2 separate regions of the Homo sapiens genome follow, and region 2 is linked to region 1. A link means that fine-mapping ties the variant in region 1 to the expression of a gene that starts in the linked region. Tissue or cell type: whole blood. Region 1 holds a variant in brackets; the other region holds the start of a gene. All regions are shown on one strand. Distances are from middle to middle.

Region 1 (8,109 bases):
GGAAATTCAGTATATAATAAAAGTAGCTTTTCAGATCAATGGAGAAATGATGAATTATTCAAAATGTGTTAGGACAACCGGCTGGACCATTTTAATATATGAAATTTAAGTTCCTACTTTACATCTTGCAGTCAAATTCTAAATTGCTAAATTATTTAAAATGTAAAAAGCAAACAAATAATACAATCATAAGTACTAAAGAAAATATAACTAATAGAAAAATAATAATTTTGCAATAGTGTGACCTTGCTAAGAATGGCCCAAAATTTAGAAGACTGTTAAGGGGAAAGATAAATAAATTGGAGATAAAATTTGAAAATTCATGTAAAGTAAAGACACCATATACAAAATCAATGAAATGCAAAATAAAATAGTGAGATAATTTATAGCCTATCAGGTTGACAAAGAATAAAAAGATTGGTAATACCTAGTAAAACCCAGCATTGGTACAGCTGTAATGCAACTGCTCATAGCACTAAACTGACATAAGCTTTCTGTATCACAATTTGGGAAAAGACTTGAGATACATAAATCCTTTGACCCAGTAATTCCATTTCTAGTAATTTACCCTAAAGAAATTATTTGACAAGTATACAAAGATAGATAAACTAAAAAAATCCTAAATGTTTATTAATAGAAGATTTGGTAAATGGATAATGACATATGGATGACTATGCAATCATTAAAAATGATTATGTTTATCTATATTAACTAACTAAGAAAGATACTAAGATTATATAGAGTCCAGCAGCTTCAAAAATAGTGTGTCAGGTATGACAACACTTTTATATTAAAGAAAGCACACATACAATATGCCCATATATAGAAGAGAGGGACAGGGAATTTAAAAGTTTGGAAGAATAAAAATTTAACATTATCTCTGTACAACAAGATTAAAAATGATCTTTACTTTCTTCTTGATTTGAAAATTCTATTCGCTGATTTTTGGGGATAAATAGTTATTTATGTTTCAGGTCTTGTACTGGCTAGCACTTCAATAACAATGCTAAATAATAAAGGATCTAACAATACTTCTGCTTTAAATTCATTTCAGAGGGAATATCTCTACTGTTGCAGTTAAGTATCATGTAACCTTTAGGCCTGAGATAGATTTTTTATCCAATTAAAGGAATATCTGTCTGTTCTTAAGTTTTATAAGTTTTAGTTTATAAAGATTTATAAAGAACGAATAATGAATTCATTCATTCATTTATTATTTATTTTTAAGACAGGGTCTGGCTTTGTCATCCAGGCTAGAGTGCAGTAGCATGAACAAGGCTCACTGCAGCCTTGACCTCCTGAGCTCAAATGATTCTCCTGCCTCAGCCTCCTGTGTAGCTGAAACTCAGGGACACACCACCACGTCTGGCTAATTTTTTAAATTTTTTTTGTACAGACAAGGCCTCACTATGATGCCCAGGCTGGTCTTGAACTCCTGGGCTCAAGCGATCCCCCAACTGGTCCTTCCAAAGTGCTGCGATTACAGGTGTGGGCCACTGTGCCTAGCCACATTACTTTAGAATCAGATAAAGCAAAGCTACTTTGAATTTTAAAAGAAAAAATCAAGGCTGGACACGGTGGCTCATGCCTGTAATCCCAGCACTTTGGGAGGCCAAGGCGGGCAGATCACTTGAGGTCAAGAGTTTGAGACAAGTCTGGCCAACATGGTGAAACCCTGTCTCTATTAAAAATACAAAAATTAGCCAGGCGTGATGATGCCTGCCTATAATCCCAGCTACTTAGGAGGCTGAGGCAGCAGAATTGCTTGAACTCGGGAGGTGAAGGTTGCAGCGAGCCGAGATTATGCCACCGCACTCCAACCTGGGCAACAATTGGTGAGATGATTCCATTTTCTATCAATTTTTTAGCTTTTACAATTCCTGAATATATGCAATCAGATCATTTATTTCAGATGAAATGACATGTCCAGACTTTTCTGTAACTTAATTGTGGGATCTGACACAGGAAGAAAGCGAATTACAGTATTTCAGCACTAATTTCTCTTGTATTTTAGTACTAATTTCCTTGTATAGTAGATATGAAAAACTGAGTCCTAAATAAGTGAATTGATTTGCTTAAGGTTACACACACATCACAGCCCATCATCTCTAGAAGACCACTTGTTAAAATGCAAATGTAATCTGGAAGGTCATGTTTTTGTGTTTAAAAAATGATTTTCTACAAAAAATTAGCAGGGCATGGTAGGGTGCACCTGTAGTCCCAGCTACTTGGGAGGGTGAGGTAGGAGGATCTTTTGAGCCTGGGAGGTGGAGGTTGCAGTGAGCCAAGATCATGCCACCGCACTCCAGCCTGGGCGACAGAGTGAGGCCCATCTTAAAAAAAAAAAAAAAAGATTTTCAATTTTGCATAGTCATAAGCCCACATAAACCCTAAAATGTAAGTGGTTCATAATGAATACAAATAGGTTTTATTTTCCAAATTCAAGAAATCTTTAATGTTAGAAAACCTAAAAAAGATTATAAGATATACAAAATAATGAACCTATCTGCTCCCGATTTCTTAGTTACCAGAAATAAAAACAATAGCTATAACAATTCTTTAGAACATAACAAAAGCTTACCATTAACAAATACTCCTCTGATAAGTTTGGTGTATGCTTTATCCAGGTCTCCACGACGCTCAGCATTTTTGAAGATTGATTCTGCAAGTCCAGCAAATTCTTCAAATTCAGCAACAAATGGAAGAATTCCAACTTTACTCTTTTTTGAGATCTTTACTTCTTCCATTTGCCTTATTTGGTTACTCTAAAGTTAGGCAGAGAGCAAGGGAGATAAATAACCAAGCAACTTTAAAACTACATATAATCATAACAAAATATATAGATGGAGATATAGATATATACATAGATATCATAGAGGCAGGATATTATGTGGTACCTAGAACACTTTGGATGCTTACTAATTGAAGATGAATCAAAACAAGGATAACTAAGAAAAACTAATTCTATAGATAATAAAACCATTTTACAGTAAGTTTAAGAAAATCAAAATAATACAGATTATTTAAAACCATCTATAAGCTGGGGACGGTGGCTCATGCCTGTAATCCCAGCACTTTGGGAGGCCAAGGTGGGTGGATCGCTTGAGGCCAAGAGTTCAAGACCAGCCTGGCCATTTTCGTCTCTACAAAAAATACAAAAAAAAATTAGCTGGGTGGGGTCGTGCATGCCTGTAATCCCAGCTACTTGGGAGGCTGAGGAATGAGAATTGCTTGAACCTGGGAGGCAGAGGTTGCAGTGAGCCAAGATTGCGCCACTGCACTCCAGCCTGGGTGACAGAGCAAGACTGTCTCAAAAAATAAAATGAAACAAAACAAAATACAATCAAGGCCGTGAACTTCAAGTCTCTGTACAAAGTAAAAACAGTCAACACACATTTCTACCATTTATGAAAGATGAGTACAAGGCAATTACTGATTTTAGGTTACAGGAGAGAAGATTCCAGAGCACCTATAGGATCCCTCCGGGTAACTTCTGGTTGGTGGCCACGTGGTCAAGTTTGAGAACCACAGTCATTTCCAATTTTCGTCAGTCTAAAATTTCTGTCTGGATAGACAAACTCTCTATTTTCAGAGTACAGAAACAAAGAGGGAGGATAGGCATTTCCATATGGATTTGCATTATTTAATTTTCCATATATTTATTAGTCACTTAGCCTTAGTTCCACAAACTGCTTGTGCATTATATGACAAAATGCGAAAGAAATGTTTCATGCAGACAGAATCTTAGGTTCAAAACGATCCACGGATTCAATTATGGTTCTATGATTCTGAAGGGATCTAAATCTACTCAGTAGGAATGATTACACTGCCAAATACTTTTGTATTATTTCAGCTTCTACCTAACATTTCATTGTGTTGAGATTTGGGGAGTATAACTCAAAAACC[A/T]TATGACACATGGATTAGAAAAATAATTATCTCTAGGCTTCTGACATTAGTATAAGAAAACCCTAAGAGTATAGTCAGTTATTTCATATTATCTGTACTAATGTTCTACTTCATCAGTATTGGTAACTGTGAGGTGAAAAACAGATGCAGTAGAAAAGGTAGTGGTAAGATTGCAGGTACTAGAACCAGACTTTCTGGGTTTGAATACAAGATCCATATTTTTTAACTGTGGACCTGGGGAAAGTAACTTCACCTCTCAAACAATCTACCTTATTGAGGGGCTGGGTTTAAGATTAGATGACATAATGTGTGCAAAGTGCCCAGACTTGTGCCTGGTACACAGTAAGCACTCATTTATAAATGCTGTCTATTGATCTTATTGACCAGTGTTCATAAATGAGAGATAAGATCTTATCAAAAATAAGACATTATTGAAATAAGATATACAGAAGTATGACAGGCAGAAGAAACCACCCTCCTCTTCAGTGGCAAACCTATGTCCTTTATATATATATATGCAACTTATGAGAAAATATGAATTTATATCTTTGTCTAGATTACCTTCTCTAGTGCCATGCCTTGAGAAGTGTTCATGAAGCATTTTTTAACCTGGCCTAGCCCAATTCATACATACAAGTATAAAAAATGTAATGGATAGATGGCCGGTGTCTCTTGCTTGTAATCTCAGCACTTTGGGAGGCTGAGGTGGGCAGATCACCTGAGGTTGGGAGTTTGAGACCAGCATGACCAACATGGAGAAACCCCATCTCTACTAAAAATACAAAACTAGCAGGGCGTGGTGGCGCATGCCTGCAATCCCAGCTACTCGGGAGGCTGAGGCAGGAGAATCACTTGAACCCAGGAGGCGGAGGTTGCGGTGAGCCGAGATTGCACTGTTGCACTCCAGCCTGGGCAACAAGAACGAGACTCCATCTCAAAAAAAAAAAAAAAAAAAAAAAAAGTAACAGATAGTAAGAAAGTTGTCAAATTTTTTTCTATTAGGAGGAAAATGATAATTGCTCAGTTATAACAATTTATTCCTAAAATAAAATACAATTATTAAAGCTACTAAACTATTAAAATAAATTAAATAATTAAAATAATCAAATTAGTTTTCTTACTAGAATGTATTAAAAGAAGAACAATAACAATAAACCCAAATGATTGTTTCAATTGTTTCATTAAATCAATGGTCATTGACTAATAAACTGAGATGTCAGTGATTCGGTAGATTTTTTTTTTTTTTTTTTTGACACAGTCTTCACTCTTGTCACCCAGGCTGGAGAGCACTGGTGCAATCTTGGCTCACTGCAACCTCCACTTCACAGGTTCAAGCAATTCTCCTGCCTCAGCCTCCCGAGTAGTTGGAATTATAGGCATGTGCTACCACGCCCGGCTAATTTTTGTATTTTTGGTAGAGATGGGGTTTCGCCATGTTCTCCAGGCTGGTCTCGAACTCCTGACCTCAGGTGATCTGCCCACCTCGGCCTTAAAAAGTGCTGGCATTACAGGTGTGAGTCACTGCGTCTGGCCTCCAGTGGATCTCTTAAGCAACTGGTGCCACTGTGCCACTTCCTCCAGAACTTGCCAAGATTCACAGTGTGGAATGGAAACTAGCTGGCATAGTGCCACCCAACTAACTCTGTTCATGTAGATTGTTGCCATGCCCTGCTTCGAGGGACATAAACAACAGATTCCCCAACAGAAAGCTGGAAATCCCTCGATTTTAAATACATTTACCTATATTTTGCAATGACTAGGATGCTAAGGTATTTTTTTAAAAAAGAAAACTTACAATGCATTTGTCAAAGTTCCTTTTGACAGTCACCAAAACATTTCCCAATGTAGTACTTAGGAAAGAAGCAGGGTCCACATTTTGTGCAGTCCACACATGATGACTCATTTTGACTAACATATAAAGAGAGTTAAAGCTATCAATTTTGTCTCCTAATGCAATTAGGTTGTTCAGCTCTGGCTCAATGCAGCGAAATATTTTAATCATCATTTGGCGGATCATATCTTTCCTGTTCAGAAAACAGACAAGAAGTATAAAGTTATAACAAGCTTCAGGTGAATTCACCGTTAACTTTAATCCACTGGGTATATACAAAAGGACAAAAATACCATAATTAAATTTCAATTAAAAATGTCTAAATAGCCAGGCGTGGTGGCTCACGCCTGTAATCCCAGCACTTTGAGAGGCCAAGGTGTGCAGGTCACCTGAGGTCAGGAGTTCAAGACCAGCTTGGCCAACATGGTAAAACCCTGTCTCTACCAAAAGTACAAAAATTAGCCAGACGTGGTGGTGCATGTCTGTAATCCCAGCTACTTGGGAGGCTGAGTCAGGAGAATCGCTTGAACCCGGGAGGTGAAGTGCAGTTGCAGTGAGCTGAGATGGCGCCATTGCATTCCAGCCTGGGCAGCAGAGGGAGACTCCATCTCAGAAAACAACAACAACAAAAAACAAATAAAAATGTCTAAATATGATTATAGTAGTTTTTGATATAAAAATATTTTACTGATGTTGGGTTTTATCATTTGAATTAGTTTTAATTTGTAAAGCTGGGTCATGAAATGTGCTTTGTGATTTCTAAGAAATACACTACAATTCAAAGGCTTCCCCCTACCAGCAAACAACAGACTGACTTCATCTTCTGTAAGTCCTGGAGCAAGGAAGAGTTGAAGAGCCATAAAATAGGCCCTATTTTAAATCAGTAAAACGTTTGATAAGACAATGGACACACATGCTGGTACTGTGAGTGCTGTCAGGCTACTGAGAAACATCTAGACCCCTCAATGAGCAGCACTCCACATTTTAAAGTTTATTTTTTCCAAAATAAACAATGATAGTAACAAAGACATACTCAGATGAAACAGGCAGTGGTGTGCCACAATTATGTTGCCGTGATAATGTTCCTCCATCCAGGTCCTCTGCTTCAGCCTGCAAAAATTATTCAGGCACTTTACATAATAAAAGACCAACAATTTGACTAGTATTGATATAGCAAAAGCCTGCTCAGTCTTAAAATTCCTAGGAAAGAATACATTATGAAAAATATTTTTAAAGGTAGCATTATGATAAAGCTAGCTATATAATTTAGTATGCTATTTAAGAATGTTCATGAGATACTCTTCTTAGGTTTTATCCAAGAACTTTTGTGGGGTGAGAAGTTGTATTTGTGTGTGCACCTGAGGGGAAGTAGGGAGGTACAGGAAGCTGAACGCAAGGTGTGGGAGTGGGGGCAGCTTGACAACAACCACCACAAAAATAGAAAACGTCCAAACACAACTTTCAAAAGAGAATTTAAAAAATTAAGGAAATCTCATCAATTATTCTAATAGAACTTCAGCATTAAAAAAATGCTATAAAAAATTCTTACAGAGGCCAACAAATAAACAAATTTGCCACCATTACTACCATAACAATGAACACTCTAAACCATTTATCATAATCCATTTCTCATTTATTTTATGACTGCTTTTATAAGTTGGTTGTCTGTGGCATACAATTTTGAGATGATAATTTAAAAAACACTTTATTTGCACTGTTTTTAAGTTCTTCAAAATACTCAAGAAACTCTCTCATCTTATTCTCTTATATGTATGCTACCAGAAAGGCATGCTGAATAGGCACTATGATATCTACTTTACAGAAGAGGAAAGCTGGGGATCGAATAACTGGCTTAAGATCTCATGGCTAGTTAGTAACAAAGCCACAAGGAAGGCAAATCTGAGGCCTCATTTTCTTTTATTTATCATTATTGTTATTTGGTATACCAAAGTGTATACACTCTAACATCATTTTAAAACATTATATTTATCTTGATGACTACTAAAATGTTAAACTAGCCTTTTAAATAATGTTCTTTGCAAAGTAAACTCAGACATTCCTCCCCCCACTAATTTAGAGAATATTTAGGCTTGTAATATTCTGAAATATTAAATTAGATGCCCAAACTTCATCTGTCACTGTTTTTATCATCTTGTGGTATTACAAAAATTCCTTACATCCTAAATCCTTACATCATAAAAAAATCCTTACATGATAAATTCTTTCCTTTTCTCTTCTGATCATAAAATTGTGACCACATATTAATTAAGCTAATTATATTACAGATCATAAATACTATCCAAAATACACTGTGAGCCATACCATAGTTCCAGGCATACTTTGATGTTGCTGTAGTTTGAAAAATTTACTTA
Region 2 (8,109 bases), 43 kb after region 1:
CATATTTGTGTGGATATGTATTACAATTTTTCAATGCAAATGTGTAGTATTTCATACATGTGAGCTTGCCTAGGACACTAACTTCTAAAACACTATTTCTTTCTATGGGAAAATGAAGAAATCATGATTTTTAAATAAATGATTTACAACGTATTTTTATAGCACAATGACTATTTTGTAAAACAAGTCTTTCCAATATTTTACTCAATCTGTAAAACTTCTATCTCTGCTCCAATTCCAAAAATTGCTTTTCTCATAAAATTCACATCTTCCCACTTCCACTTCATCTCAGCCTCTAGTCTTCTGACATTGCCCTTCTTTCTGTTCTCTTAATCTGGCCTCTCCAAGTTTACTTCTTTTCCAACCTAGCCTGGAGACAGTGCTCATTTCCCTATACCTAAACTATCCCCTACAATTATTTCACCCTGTTTGTAGACCAGCTGATCTTGTTTTTATCAATCTCCATAAACTGTATTATTTTCTTCACTTCTCTTGGACTACCAAATGCCACTTTCAAAAGCCACATATCCACGCTCATTGCGTGCATTACAAATATCTACATCCAGTGAAAGTTAGACTTTCAATGCTGCTCGGCAATTAATCCCTCATTTGATGATTCCTTTTTCCGTTCCCCATGACTATTGTTGTAAATCCTTATTACTCTCCTTCAGTTTCCAGGTCTAGCAGTTAGCCTCCTCCCGCTCTGCAAATGACTTAACAATCTACCTTGCAGAGGATATAAAAGCCATGAAATACAATTATCCCCAATTGCTTGCTTCTCCGTCTCTCCACACCTTCACCCAACCTCTCCTCCTTTTGGCTTATTATAGAGTGTCCATGCTGCTAATCCCTTAATATGTTGTAGGGCCCAGACACTATGTTATATTTCTTCCTAAGCCCAAGCCACAATGGCACTGGCCAGTTTACTTTTCTATCTCTGGGCTTTTGTTCATGCAACCTTCTTTTCCTAGAATTCTCTTCTCCCTAGGAAATTACAATTCATCCCTCAAGATTGTGCTAAAATGTCATCTTTTCTGTAAAGTAGCCCCCTCCCTGCAGCCGCCCCACGCAAAGAGTAATTTCTACCTCTCTAACACTTCCCCTCTACTTCATAAATACGGCATTTATGAATTGTATTTTCTAGCTAGCTGTATTTTATCCCCTATTAAAAGTAGGACCATGTCTTAATCATCTTTGTATTCCTAGAACTTGACAAACTAGGCATTTAACAAATGCTTAAATTCACTAACATGACAGCTATAGCTCCTCCAAGATTCCCCTTTCCTAACTTTCACATCTATAAGCAAATGTCCAGGTTCAAAATCTACCATATTTGCTTCCCTATTCCCTTATCAACATGAAATCTGCTACCACATTCTGCGATTTCCCCCCATCTACATGTAATTTATTCCTTTCTTTTCGCACTGCAAATATACTGACCCAGGTTCATATCAACTTTACTTAACCCTACAAAATCTGGTTCTCTTTGCAAGGTCCCACAACCCTGAACAACAAGATAATTTTAAAAGACAGTTTGTATCACATCACGCTTTTACTCAACGTTTTCCTAATGTTCTCAAAAACATTCCACTCCAAACACTCTGTTCATTTTGGACATCAAATCTTCACTTTGGTACTTTCCATGTAAGGAATATCATCTCCGCCCTATCCAAACCCTAATTACACTTCATGGTTTACATGAAGTTGATTCAATGAAGATCTTAATCCAAAGTGATCTCTCCTCTAAATTTCTACAGCACTTACTGCATTTGCCGTCTAATGGGCTCATTAAATCATAAGCTTCTCTATCTCAAGAATTCTCTTAAAGAAGGGAGGGATGTTCATCATAGTTTTGTGTTTAGTGGATACTTAAATATCTATTAAGGTAATTAGAACTGAATAGTAAAAACTGGTCAAATGAATAATAGGGACCAACGTTTACCACATACTCCTTCTCTGGCTAAAAGCAACTGAGTGTACAGTAAGAGGCAAAACAAGACAGGATTGGGCATACCTCATAAAGGAGTTAGCCATAATGAAAAGCAGTATGTGACTCTTCATTCATTCAGCAAATACTCATGCTTATTAGGTGGCAGACACTATTCTAGGTTACAGTAGTCAACATGACAGATATGTTTATGAAGACCTGAAGCCGGGTGTTTCTATGGCATTTACATCCTAAGAGTCGAGTGATTAACTCTTCAGTCTTTACGGTACTTTTCTGAAAGTCAGTAAATAAATCCCTAGAGGTCCTCTAAAATTATTCTCCAGGTCTGAGAACCCATATCTGACCACGTTCCAAAGGCAGCCATCCACTGCTTACTCTGTACTGGTTGTTTCCTTCAGCTCAGTTGGACCACCACACTGTGTGACAAATAGCCTGTCAGTGTGAGTGCCCGTGTGCATTGGGCCCTGTATGCTGCTGAGATATATTAATGCATGAAGCATTGCCATCTAGAAGATATAACTGTGCAAGGAAATAGAGAAATACACTTAAGAGATTTGGCGGGGGGTGGGGGGGAGTTGGGGTTGGGGGGCCGGGATGTGAATTTGGACAAAGAGGAAGGCACAGTCACGCTCTCCTCTCCTGGACCACGCCAAAGAGCTTACGATCAGGGTCATTTTGCACAAACAAAATCTGGTTCCGATGGGCGGAACCGTAATGGGGCCCGTGAGGACTGCCCTCCCAGCTCCGCATTCTCCTAGACCCGAGGACAAGGGACTGGAGAATGCTCTGACCAAACTTCGTCTTACCGGGACAAACGGGGAAAGGAAGGTCAGAAGGAGCGGTGCCCGACCCCAGGCGTGGAGACAGCAGCCGGACTGAGGAGCCGCCTTAGACCCTGGTGCCTGTCAGCTCGTCTGTCCGCCGCCGCCGGGACTACCGGGCAGCCGCGGCCGAAGGCTTACCGCAAGGCCGGACTGAGCCTGGCTGTGCCGAGGCGGGTCTTCCAAAACGGAGACCGGATGGGGGCCACTAGGATACGCCCCTCAATAAAGCGTTGAACGGGAAGCGGCCGTTCCCCCAACACTTCCTATATCCGGGCACGTGACAAACTCCGCGCCGGAAGTTGACCGCGTAGAGAAGGAAGAAGCAGCGATGGGAGAAAAAGGGAGCGGCCAATAGACGCGGAGGGGCGGGGCGCCAACCGACGGGCGTGGCCAGGCGGAACAAGGCCTCATTGGAGGGGCGTGTCAGGGAAGGGCAGGGGCGGGGCCTTTGTGGCACAGAAACTGACTTGGGAGTTGGGGATTAAGAGTTATTTATTCAGATATTTGCAGCAATTCATTTAAGAAGAAATTCGATTAAATGTTTTCTTTTTTCATACGTAAAGCTCTATTAACTCTAGATCTTTGCTACTTAAACTTTGGAGAGCTTAAATGAGTTAAATCAGAATCCCTGCGGGTGGGACCCAGACATCAGTACTTTTAATATCTTCCCAGATGATTCTCATATGCAGCTAAGGTCAAGAACCATTGTCCTCATGACCTTGATACTCAAAGTGTGGTCCGTGGATCAGCTGCTTGGGTATCATCTGGGGGCTTTTTAGGAAATGCAGCCTCTCTGGCTCACTTCAGATCTACTGAATCAGAATCTGCATCTTAGCAAGATGATGCTTATGCATATTTAAGTTTGGGATGCATAAATGATGCCAATGTTGCTGGTTGCAGGTAGGTGTTTTATTTATTCAATATTCCTGGCACCTTTTTTTTTTAATGCTAGGCACTTTGATTCCAGGTACAGAGGTGATTCAGGCATGAATCTTAACCTAAAGGAGTTCACAGTGTGGTAGGACTAGACAAGGTGTAGGTACAAATATATATAAAATAGGACACAAAATAAGTGACCAAAGAGAGGTACAGATCAGATAAATGTGCTAGAAATTTAAATGAGCAAACAGTAGTTAGAATACTTTTCACTTTCATCAAATGACTTCCCTTTTAAGAGCAGGATCTGGTTATATCTTTACAAAGACCCTTTCCTGCTTGGCACCGGAATGCTTACTGTGGACACTCTATGACAATTGCATGTGTTTTTTGGTCCTATTATCTTTCTTTTATTTACCTGTATGTTTATAGCCCTCCTCAAAGTTGGGAAATGAATTGCATTTCAGAAGCCTAGATCTCTTTCTTGAACCTCAAGATTTGTGTATATACTGCCCATCGCCTGACATTTCCACTTGGATGTCTTATAGACACCTCAAACTTGTGTGTCCAAAAATTAAATTATCCTCTCTCCTCTTGGATTCCCTGCAAAGTGACACTTATATGCAATAGTTTATTTGGAAATTTGATCCCAGGGAGCAAAATGAGGGAAGAGGAAGAAGACAAAACAAAAAGGGAGATGCAGTATAAGAATGTGTTACTGAGTTGGTCATCACCATATTTGAATGTTTTCTTAGTCCCTTAGGACCTTCTAAGAAGCTTTATGAAATGAGTCTCAGAACTGTCCATTAAAGGAAAGAACGGAGGAAGCATTTGTATGTCGGCTCCTGTCCTCTTTGATCGAAGGTTAATGCCCTTGGGCATTAACTACTTCACACTTACAAATCGCACAGTTGTGAATGCCAAGCTGACTCCCACATCAGAGACATGCTGGGGCAGGAAGTGAGAGGAGAGGTGCTGGTATTTCGCACTTGTTCAAAGGTCATCAAACCTGCTCCGAGCAGGTTGCTGCAGCAGTGGTTAGAATAATAGGCTGAAGGGATTTGAAGTCATGGCCTAAGTTGCACAGAAGGACATAGAAGGTGTCCATATCTTGCAGCACTCTGATCTGCCTGTGTGCTCTGTTATGTTCAGTCCTTCACAGAGGTCTCTTCAAGGTGATGGCCAGCCACAATCTCAGCAAAGCCTTAATATAAGAGAGTTAATAGAATAAGCTTCAGTTTTTACTGCTGCATCAATGTCAGGACCATACTTGTATTAACTCCCTCTTCCACTACCCATTCTAATTTTCCCTCACCATTGACCAGCACATCAGCTGGTCTAAGTTGTTTCTCTGGTGAAATAGCCCCCACCTTCAGCCTTTATTTTCCTTTCTCTGGTTAAGCCATGATTGCTGTAATTACCTGTTCAAATTATCCCTGGGTACAGAAACACCTAGTAAGCCCCAGCGAATTATTTGGATTCCAAATTCCTCCCTAGTGCTATTGTGGAGCAACAATCCTAGATCCTTTTGCTAATCACAGTTGATTACTCCCACGAGCATAGTAACTCCTTTCTTTGCCAGCTTGTCCACTTCCGTAAGAAGCACAAGGTAACTAAGTAAAAGTTTGAAGTGCAATGAATTCCATAGTGTTTATCCTGGTGGCAGCATTCCCCACTCAACTCCTGAAGAACCAATTATTGCAATCTAGCAAATACTAATTTTTTTTTTTTTGAGACAGAGTCTCGCTCTGTCACCCAGGCTGGAGTACACTTACATGATCTCAGCTCACTGCAACCTCCTACCTCCTGGGTTCAAGCAATTCTCATGCCTCAGTCTGCATGGCTTACTACCATGTTGCTTCCAAGTCTTTGCTCAAATGTTACCTCACTGAGGCCTTCCAAGAGAACCCTATGTAAAATAGTTCCCCAACCACCCTCCTCCCAGTATTTTTTATCTTCCTTTTTTACTTTTGTTCTTCATGGTTCTTGCTACATTTTGACATATTGTATATGTTGTTTGTTCATTTGCTGTTTCTCTAGAATGAAGTTTTATGAAAGCAAAGATTTTTATCTGTTTTTTTCAGTGATGTATCTCTGATTCCTGGAACTCAGAATAATATCTAACAATTACATAGCACTTATTATGTGCTATGTACTATTCTAAGCATTTTACATGTATTAATTAACTTAATCATCACAACTACCCTGTGAGGAAGGAATCTTTATTATCCTCATTTTAAAACCAGAAAACTGAGGAACAAATTGTCTAGTCCTAGGACACGTGGTATACCATGGTAGTCTCTCAATGAATATCTTTATGTCATCACAGCCTACTGCATGAAGTAGACTTAAGAAGCAACATGAAATAATGAAAAGTATATCATTACTGGAATTGACACAGGAGTGGGGCAGGGAAGTGCTGGGAAGGGAAGGACGTGGGCCCTGGCTAGGGCTCCACCACTGGGCCTGTGCCCATGGACCTAGGTGAGGACAGGCACTCCTGCCTTCCTGCCCAAATGTTGCATTTTCCAAGACCACCCTGGCCTGCCACACCCCTGCCTTGTGCCTATAAAAACCCTGAGACCCTAGCAGGCAGAGACACAAGCAGCTGGATGTTGAGAAGAACATATTGGCGGAAGAACACACAAGCGGCTGGACGTGCATAGAAGCGTGCCAGGGGAAGAGCACACAACAGATGCAGGCAGGCCATCAACAGGCAGGCCATCCACCGGCAGAATGATGCAGATTTTAGCCCCAGGTGGTCAGGGGAGATCTGGGCTGCTGAGCAGCCCGACTCCAGGGAAAAACCACCTTCCCACTCCATCTGCCTTCTGGCTTCTCCATCTGCTGAGAGCTACTTCCACTCAATAAAATCTTGCACTCATTCTCCAAGCCCTCACGTGGGATCCGATTCTTCCGGTTACACCAAGGCAAGAAACCTCAGGACACAGAAAGCCCTCTCCTTGCAATTAGGCAGGAGGTCTAATTGAGCTAGCTAACACAAGCCATCCGGATGACTAAACTAAAAGAGCACCCTGTAACAAACGCTGAGCAGGGCTTCAGGAGCTGTAAACGTTCACCCCTATACGCTGCCGTGGAGTCCGAGCCCCACAACCTGCCCTTCTGCATGCTCCCCCTAGAGGTTTGAGCAGTGGGGCACTGAAGAAGTGAGTGACACCCCCATCGCATGCCCTGCGATGGGGATAAGGGAATTTTCCTGTTTCGGAATCACACAGACCAGGGGTTCAAATCTGGTCTTTACCCTTTACTGAGTCAGTGACCACAGGGCAAGTTACTTAACTCTTCAGAGCCTCAATTTTCTCATCTGTATATAAAAAATAGTAATCCCATCTTGGGCATATTTGCTAAGATGTTTCTTGTAAAGCACTTGTCTCATTGCTTGGCACACAGTATAAGCATTCAATAAATGGTAGCTGTTATTACATGCAGATTGGTTTAGTAGATTAAATTGGGCAGATTTACCTACTTGAAAAACATGTAATAGTCACCCAAGGAGGTTCTGCCCAAGGAGGTTCTGAGGTCCCGCTTCCTTTACATAGAAAGAAGGCTGTATATATTAACATGTATCACATATGAGGGAATCTCATACTTACATAGCATGAAATAACTTTTCCATTGTTAGTAAGCTCCAAGGGAAAAGTCTCTTCTAAATGGTGAAGAGTAGTAAATATTGATGATTTATAGAAGTTAATTGTTTCCTCAGAGAAATCGCTCTTGTTACTGTGCACCAGTAAAGCAGAGGCCTGAAGATTGTAAAGACTTCATGTTCTTCTCAAGACCTGAATCCATTTTGCACCTTTTGAAGGGGGAGGGAGACCATCCTTTTCCTCAGCTTGAACCCCTGAAGGAGGAAGGGCAAAAGTGCCCCACTCCCTCTAGGGCTGTCTCTGATGACATCGGTGGTAGCTCCACTGGCTTTGAGGACATTGTTTAGTGAGAAAACTCATAGATTTCATGGAAGTGGACTTTCATATTTCATATTTGGATGCCTCTTTTACTGGCATCCAAACTGTCTTTTGATATCAGTCTGATTAATTTTAATTTGGGTATAAAGCTAAGGGATCTTCAAATGTTTAAAATGTTCAAATGTTTAAAATCATGTAGATTTATATAATTTCAATTTGAAATGTGACATTTTAAACATTTGACATTTATTATGACACTTACTTTGATTTTTCTCTTCCCTATTTCTTAGCATTGTTTTCTTATAATTTAATGATGCATGTTCCTGTCTAAGAAAGGAAGAACTTTTTTTCAGAGATGTAAGACTATTAGTATCAACACAAAGAACACCAAGTAACTCTTTGTGGGGGTGGGGGGTGGACAATGAGAGTTACAATGCTGCACTTCCCAGATTCTTTATTTTCTTTTTCGTTCTGTTTTTTCTGGAGACAGTCTTGCTCTGTCACCCAGGCTGGAGTGCAATGGCGTTAGCTCACT

What was found. PIP is the estimated chance that this variant, and not a neighbour inherited with it, causes the effect.
Region 2: EXOC1 starts here. The variant in region 1 is fine-mapped to the expression of EXOC1 in whole blood (INTERVAL, PIP 0.92).

The regions. Positions count from the first base shown.
Region 1 is chr4:55,891,373-55,899,481 of GRCh38, reverse strand. EXOC1 (exocyst complex component 1) reads right to left here. Exons shown (of 19, transcript NM_001024924.2): 13 at 8,060-8,109; 14 at 6,771-6,847; 15 at 5,702-5,930; 16 at 2,582-2,765. All of the region lies in intron 4 of EXOC1-AS1 (EXOC1 antisense RNA 1), which reads left to right. Among named protein-coding and RNA genes, the nearest start is that of EXOC1, 42 kb to the right of the region's middle. The variant A/T (reference allele first, on the strand shown) is at 3,907.
Region 2 is chr4:55,848,599-55,856,707 of GRCh38, reverse strand. It overlaps EXOC1 (exocyst complex component 1), which reads right to left and starts at 3,060. Exons shown (of 19, transcript NM_001024924.2): 1 at 2,755-3,060. RefSeq lists a silencer at 3,169-3,268.